Linked DNA regions of Homo sapiens. The protein of the gene in region 1 interacts with the protein of each later gene in a pairwise test. Each region holds a gene or a part of one and is shown on either strand. Other genes may lie near its edges.

The links.
Region 2: the proteins of GAN (region 1) and NUDCD3 interact in binary tests that used the Homo sapiens proteins (3 or more experiments, as listed by UniProt).

The regions. Positions count from the first base shown.
Region 1 is NC_000016.10:81,359,865-81,363,615, reverse strand, and holds part of GAN (gigaxonin), read right to left. Parts: intron 1,118-3,751; coding exon 1,005-1,117; intron 1-1,004. UniProt on the Homo sapiens protein: Probable cytoskeletal component that directly or indirectly plays an important role in neurofilament architecture.
Region 2 is NC_000007.14:44,379,006-44,382,756, reverse strand, and holds the end of NUDCD3 (nudC domain-containing protein 3), read left to right. Parts: 3' UTR 1-3,638; downstream 3,639-3,751.

The sequences.
Region 1 (3,751 bases):
CGCTTGGTACCTGGGAGACTGGATTAATCTTACTGCAAACCTCAGCATTATGCAATATACACACATAACAAACCTGCACATGTATCCCCGAGTCTAAAATAAAAGTTGAAACTATTTTTAAAAATTAGAGAAATCTTTTTTCCCAGTGTTCCAGCATGGAAGTACCACGTTCAAAACCATTTCTCCGGTAATGCTTCTTAAAGATTTCTGGCTTCCCTAACAGCCCACTCTTCCAGCACAACAGCCAGAGAGGCCAAAGCCACTTCTCAAAACAAACTTAAGAAATACATGGTGAGTTCATCAGAAAATCCTCACTTTTTAACCCATAATAGCTCACAACAAGAAAATGAACTGTTACCTCTGGTTCAATACAATTATTTTTGCATAACAAAGGGCAGTGTTTTCAAGTTGACGTGGGAAAGGCTAGTATAAACTATGGCAGAAAGGGCTGTGGAGGACAGGGTCAGGCCAAGGCTATTTGGGATCATAGAAGCCCTAGGTGTTTCATGTCCGTTTGTCAATGAATATTTATGTAGTAAACCCTACGTGCCAAGCACGATTCTAGTGCTGAAAATGAAATACTGACCAGAACACATGTAATTCTCTGCCATCAAAGAGCTTATGTGAAAAACTTTAAATGCCTGGTCCGTGAGATGGTGAGACGTCGTACGAAGACGGGGACAGGAAAGCTAAGAGGCAGGAGGGAGGCCCGCTGAGAAGGTGCTGCGAGGAGGGGGCAGGCCACGCTGGCATCTGCACAGGGCAGGATAAATGTGAAGGCTGGGGTGAGGGCATTCCTGGAAGATTTCAGAAACTCATGGAGGCCAGAAGGAGTGAGGGCCAGGAAGGGGAGGAGAGCCGGGCACTAGAAGGAGAGGTTGGAGCGAATGAGGCAGGTGGCTTGACAAGGCTGCCGTTTCTTCCCTGAACTCAGACACAAAACAAACAGAAGCGCTAAGGGGAAAGAGAAACACATCAAACAAACCAACCAACTAGTGTTTTACCTCGTTCATAGGTGGCAATGCTGTCCATGTATTTGCATCTGGATCATACTTTTCTCCTGAGCTAAGAGTCTGCTTATTTTCATCTTGGCCCCCGAATACAAACAAAAATCCTTCTGCAAAGATCAAAGGAAACACAAATATGAAATGTGAGTCTTCAACACCCATAAACGCCACAGCATATATAGAAACAGCATCTGAAGAAACTCTCTGATGACAACAATGTTCTCTTTGGATTCAGGGCTTTTATCACATCCCATTGGATCCTTGGTGATGGAGCCAAACCATCACTTTGACCATTTTGCTTTACTCATTACTGTCTTTGAGGGGATTTCCACCACCCTACAATGAAAAAGGAAGCCTGGCGTCACCCGCTCAGTCACCAGGCAACTCTGGGCCATCTCAATTCATCTCTTCTGTTCCCTCTCAGCCTCTGGGATTCTCATACAACTTTTGCACCGCAGCGCACATCTGTTCATTCTAGACCCCAGGAATACCCAGATCTGAGGCATCCGTGTGCACTTTCTATTCAAAACAGGATCTAAGAGCAACTGAACTTCCGATTTCATGTAATGGCGTATTAGGTTATTCTTCTGCAAAAAACAATTTGCTGGATAAAACATTTAAAAAATAATCTTAGCCGGGTGGTGGTGGCTCAGCACTTTTGGAAGCCAAGCTACAAGGACTGCTTGAGCCCAGGAGGTTCATAGGAGGCAACACAGCAAGACTTCATCTCTACAAAAAATAATGAAATTAGCCGGGCATTGTGGTATTTGTCTATAGTCTCAACTACTCAGGAGGCTGAAATGGGAGGATCGCTTGAGCCCAGGAGTGTGAAGCTGAAGTGGGCTGTGATCATGCCATTGTACTCCAGCCTGGGCAACGAAGTGAGATCTTGTTTCAAAAATAACAACAATAATAATCTTCTTAGAAGAGGAGAAGCCAACAAGATAACAAGGCAAAACTGAAGGGAAAATTAGGACCTACAGAGGTTATCAAGCATGAAAACCATTTTACACTGAGGGCATTTCTAATCTAGGAAAATTTAAACCTTTTGTCCTGGGGATGAAAAAGACAGAAGTTTAAGCTCCAGGTCCACAGAAAACGTGGCTTCTGGCAGGAGATCCTCTCCAAAGTTCTACACTGTCAGGATGAAGGCCAACCAGAATTCGTACTCAGATTTAAATCTCCTTGCTATCTGGGAAATCATGAGCCTTGAACTTAACTTACAGTTAATACCAAATTAGTAGTGTTTTCAGTCAACTGGCAGAAACAAATGCAAAACTTCTGTAGAAGGACCTTAATCTAAGCCTTAGATTCTAACATCCCAGGACATCTAAGGCAGAAAGTTATTGCTACAAATAATTTTTTTTTGATTTTTTTTGTTTTTTAAAGACAGTCTTGCTCTGTCGCCCAGGCTGGAGGGCAGTGGTGCAATCACAGATCACTGCAACTTCTGCCTCCTGGGTTCAAGCGATTCTCCTGCATCGCCCTCCTGAATATCTGGGATTACAGGCACATGCCACCACATACCCAGCTACTTTTTGTACTTTTAGTAGAGATGGGGTTTCACCATGTTGGCCAGTTGATTTCAAACTCCTGACCTCAAATGATCCACCCGCCTCAGCCTCCAAAAGTGCTGGGATTATAGGTGTGAGCCACTGCGCCCGGCTGCTACAAATAATGTTTAATAAATGAGCAGCATGCAGCCACAGATATCAGACATACCAAAAATTAGACTCTAAGAAAAGACCAGCAGAAGCAGATCATAGGAAGTAGTCTTGCAAAGATTTCAAATATTATAGTAACCAGAAAGATGATTTTTTTCAAGTTGGGTGATGAAGAATAAAGTCTAAAATTTATTTAAAAAACAAAGATAATTTAAACAAATGCTTATCATGTTTAAAAAATAAAAATTAACTGGAAGATAACTCCAGGTAACAGGGAACTATAGAAATAAGAGAGGATTTGAAGGTAATGGTGGATTAAGTTATTCTCCTGTAAAAAGACAAGAATTTGTAGAAATTAAAAAAAAAAAATCAATGGATAAATGTAATAGCAGATTAATCAGAGTTAAGGAGAAAAGAAGATAAATCAAAAGATAATAATCAAGAAAACAGCACAGTGAGACAAAAAGATGGAAAATAATAAGAAAATTTTAAATACACACCAGAGAAGAGATTTTTTAGACTTGCCACTGACTTCACAACAATGGAAGGCAGAAGTCAGTGGAATGACTTCAATGTGCTGAAAAATGATAAATACCAAAGCTGAAATGCTATACTCAGCAAAAATATCCTTTACGAATGAAGACAAAATAATGACATTTGCAGGCAATCAAATCTGAGAGTTGTCCACCAAAAGACCCATATTAAAGGAAATTCAAAAGGATGAACTTCAGAGAGAAGGGAGATGATCCTAGGTGGAAAGTCTGAGGAGTTAAGAAGGAAGAACGAAGAAAGTGGCAAATCTAAATGAACACTATCTACCTACCTACCTGCCTGTCTATCAATCATCTATCTACCTATCTGTCTGTCCATCCATCTATCCATCCATCCATCCATCCATCCATCCATCCATCCATCCATCCATCCATCCAACATATATCAAAAAAAGACATATTGTGTATATAGTAGCTACCCCTTATCTGAAGTTTTGGTTTCTGTGGTTTTATCACCCATGGTCAACTGCAGTCCGAAAATAGGTGAGTTCAGTAAAGTAAGATATTTTGAGAGAGACCACATTCACAT
Region 2 (3,751 bases), on another chromosome or scaffold:
CCAGCTCAGCTGGGGAAGGGACAGCATGACTCGCTTTGTCGATGAAAAGCACGAAGTTGTCAGCACAGAACCTGGCCAGTCCTTGAGAAACTCCCTCCTTGGTGGTCAGAGGTCAAGCAGCCCATGTGGCCCACGGTCCTGAAGAACTGGGCTATGTCCCTGAGGCTCCTCTCTACCGTCTGACTGTGGGGTCTGGGGAACAGGCATTTAAACCAGGCTGCTGCCCTGGGGAGTGCCCACTGGACGCCAGGGTGCCCCATAGGGACAGGGTCACAAAGCCCTGGGGCTTCCCCTGCCAGTCCTGGTGAGGACAGTGTGGTCACTATCTCAGAGAGACGAAAAATGAATATTCTGTCATTTCAGACTAAACTACTCACCCAGCTCACACTAATATGGATTTGTTAATTTTACCTTTTTTTTTCTTTCCAACTTTAGGTTCAAGGGTTGTTACATGGGTAAATTGGATCATAGGGGTTTGGTGTACAGATAATTTTGTCACCCAGGTAATCAGCATGATACCTGATATGTAGTTTTTCAGTCCTCACCTTCCTCCCACTCGGTTTTATTTTTTAGTACTGAAAGTTTAACAGATTGGTCTTACCTCAGAGGGAGGGAAGAAACCCCCCCATCGCTGGGCTCCTTGGTGTGACAGGGGTCTGGTAGGGGTTTTCAATCCCACCACCCATTCCTCCACACCAAATGCCTGAAGTCCCCACTTTGCACAGGGAGACAGCATCGTGCCAGGGAAGAGAGGTCAGGCCCGGCTACCCCTCACAACTTCCTGCTTCCCCCTCAGAGGGTGATGGGGAGACCAGAGCCCATGGCAGGATGAACTGTCACTGAACCCAGCTGGCACAGGTCTGCCAGAACACTCTGGGGGTATGCGCTGGGCTTTCTGGGTAAACCCCTGGCAAGCTGGCGTTTGCTGTCTTCTCAGTGCTGATGGAGATAGGCACACATGGGGTGTGGGAATGTGGCCACCCTCAGGCAGGTTCACGAGGGTACTGTCAGGCGCTCAGGTGTATGCCGCCTCCTGTCAGGCAGGGCTGAGGCTATTCTCCCTGGAGAAGGACAGCTTAGGAAACACTTGCAGGAAAGCTGCCTGGACCTGGGAGGTGACCCTGGCCAGCCTCCCTGCTGCCTCTCTCAGTCCTAGGCCTTCTTCCCCAGAGCTGGTCAGGGCCTGAGGGACTTTGTAGTCTAACCCCTCATTGTGCTACAATCACAGGAGTAAGTAACACTCCCAAGGCCATGTGGCTGGTGACTCGGGGGGCCCAGGTCCAGGATCCTGCCCCATCTGCAGGCCAGTGGTTCCTTGTCTCCTATTTGCTTCTTGGAGCAGCCTCCTCATAAGCCAACAGCTCCTTCACCTGAGCCCAGTCACTTTGCGCTCCTCCCCAGAACCAAAGAGCAAGACCATCTGCCCCAGGTACAGTCCTGGCCATGCCACACTCTCTGTGGCATCATGACCAAGGTGAGTGGCAGATACTGAAATCATCCAGGGCCACTGCAGGCCCCATTCCCAGTGGACTGTTCATCAAGGGACCCTGTCTCAGGCCATCTCAGCCAACCTTGTTGCCCAGCACAGGTCTGGCACATTGGAGATGATCTGTGTTGGATGGGGAAGGCAGAGGGAGGATCCTCCAGCATTGATCACCCATCAAAACCCTCAACAACCCAGACATTGCCGCTGCACTGACCCCATGCTATGAGGAGGTCACTCAGGCTGTTAGGAGCCTGCTGACTCAGGCATTGGGCTGGGGCCCTGCCTGCCTTGTCTGCCTGCCAGCGGAGCACTGCCCCAAGCCCTTCTTACTGCAGAGACAGGCTCTTGCCTCCCAGTGTGCACTTTGTGCAAGACACAGGCAGGTAAGGGTCTACCAGAGGACAGGAAGTGTTGTTGGGGCACTGTGGGGTTTGGAGGAGGCCCCTCTAGCAGGGAAAGCGAGCCCTAACCTCTGCTGGACTAGGGAGTTTAGGAAGCTGCTCTGGTTCAGGGAACTGGGGATCCAGATAACTGGGGATCAAGGCCATCTTGTGACCCCAGTGGTGGTCCCTAGTGGGACTGCTGAGCTCCAGCCTGAGAGTTCATGAACTCAACAGTGATTGCTTGTGGGTACTAATGACCCAGTGTGTGGAGACCTCATTTACCAGGTGTGCCTAGCCTGCAGGCAAATCCCAAGGCAGTGACCCTTAGGGAAGAGACAGCGTTTGGGGTCATCAAAGGCTGGGAAACCCAGGTACCTGTCAGGGAATGGGCTACAGACTGGAGCTAAGCCTTAAGGTGGGGAAGATTCCAGCACCCCTGAGTGACCACCTCTTTTGGTAATGCAAAGAAGGGATTTTGTGACTCCAGGGTGACATTTCTAAGCTTGGCATCATGCAGGGTGGGCTTGGGCTCAATATGGGTGACTGTTAGTCTAGGGCTGTCTCAATGAGGCTGTCCAGGCAGAAAGGCTTACACACCTGGCAGGCAGAGGGTCTAGAGAGGAAGGGGCAACAGGCCTAAGGAGGGGACAGCCAGGCAAGGAGGTAGAATAGGCCTTGTCTGGACAGTGGTCACCTGTTAGGTCCACAGCTTGTCCTCCCTGGCCTGACCAGCCAGGTGAGGAGAGATCCAAACCATCCACCTGAAAGCATTCAGGGTGCCTGATGACAAGACCCCAGCCACTGTGGGCTCTCATGTCCTGGTAGGAAGGTATACCTAAAGCAGGTGGACCTGGTAGTGGTGGACGCTGTCTGCCTCCCCGGGGCTTGTCTGTTTATGCCAGACCGTTTTCCCATTTGCTTCCACCTCCAGCTCAGAGAGGAATCACCTTCACACCTCTGCTAAAACTAACCCAGCTCTGCACCCACCATTCCCCACTGTGCAACACCTGCTACTGGAGAACCCTGCCCCCTCAAATACACGTCATCCTCAGGGCCCTGCGATGTGCTGTGGTCTCCCTGCCACCATTCAAGGGGCCACAGCCAGGTCCAGCCTGTCTTCCCTGGCACCAGGCTCTATGCAGTGGGGGAAACTCGGGCACCCCTAAACTATTCTCCAGTGTTCTCACCAGAGGTGGTCAGCCATGTGATGGCAAGAGTCACTTCTTAAGCTTTTGCTATCCCCAGAAACTTAAAGCAACACCAACCACACCCAAAAGTCAAGTGATATCCAGACAGCAACAGTAGAGCATTAACTGAGTGCAGGGCCGTGGTGACTCCTCGACACTCCAGGCTCTCCTGCTGGTAACCTCCCATTGGCAGAGCCAGGCACTCAGCAAAGCCCTGGACAGTCAGCAGCCTCCTGAACAGGCTCTGCTGTCCCCACTCACGACTTCAGAGCAGCTAGGACTCCTGTGACCACCCCTGTCCCCTGTTCCCCCCCACCCCGCCCCGCCCCGCCAACTGCCTCATCTCTGTCCCAAGATAACTGCTCTCCAGAATTTTCCATGATATGGTCATTTTAAAAGTTTTTTTTTTTTTTGAGACAGAGTTTTTCCTGTGTTGCCCAGACTGGACTCAAACCTCTGGGCTCAAGTGATCCTCCTGCTTCAGCCTCCCAAGTAGCTGGGACTGTAAGTGTGCACCACTGTGCCTGGCTTGATGGTGTCATTTTTCACTGTACGTGTATTTGTAAACCGTATAAATCAGTATCTTTGTGAGTTGCTTTTCTTTCTCCCTTACCTTCATGAGCTGTCTGTGTCCATACACAGTCTCCTCTGCTCCCCTAGGTGGGGTGTGATATTCCATTGAGTAGATATCACAG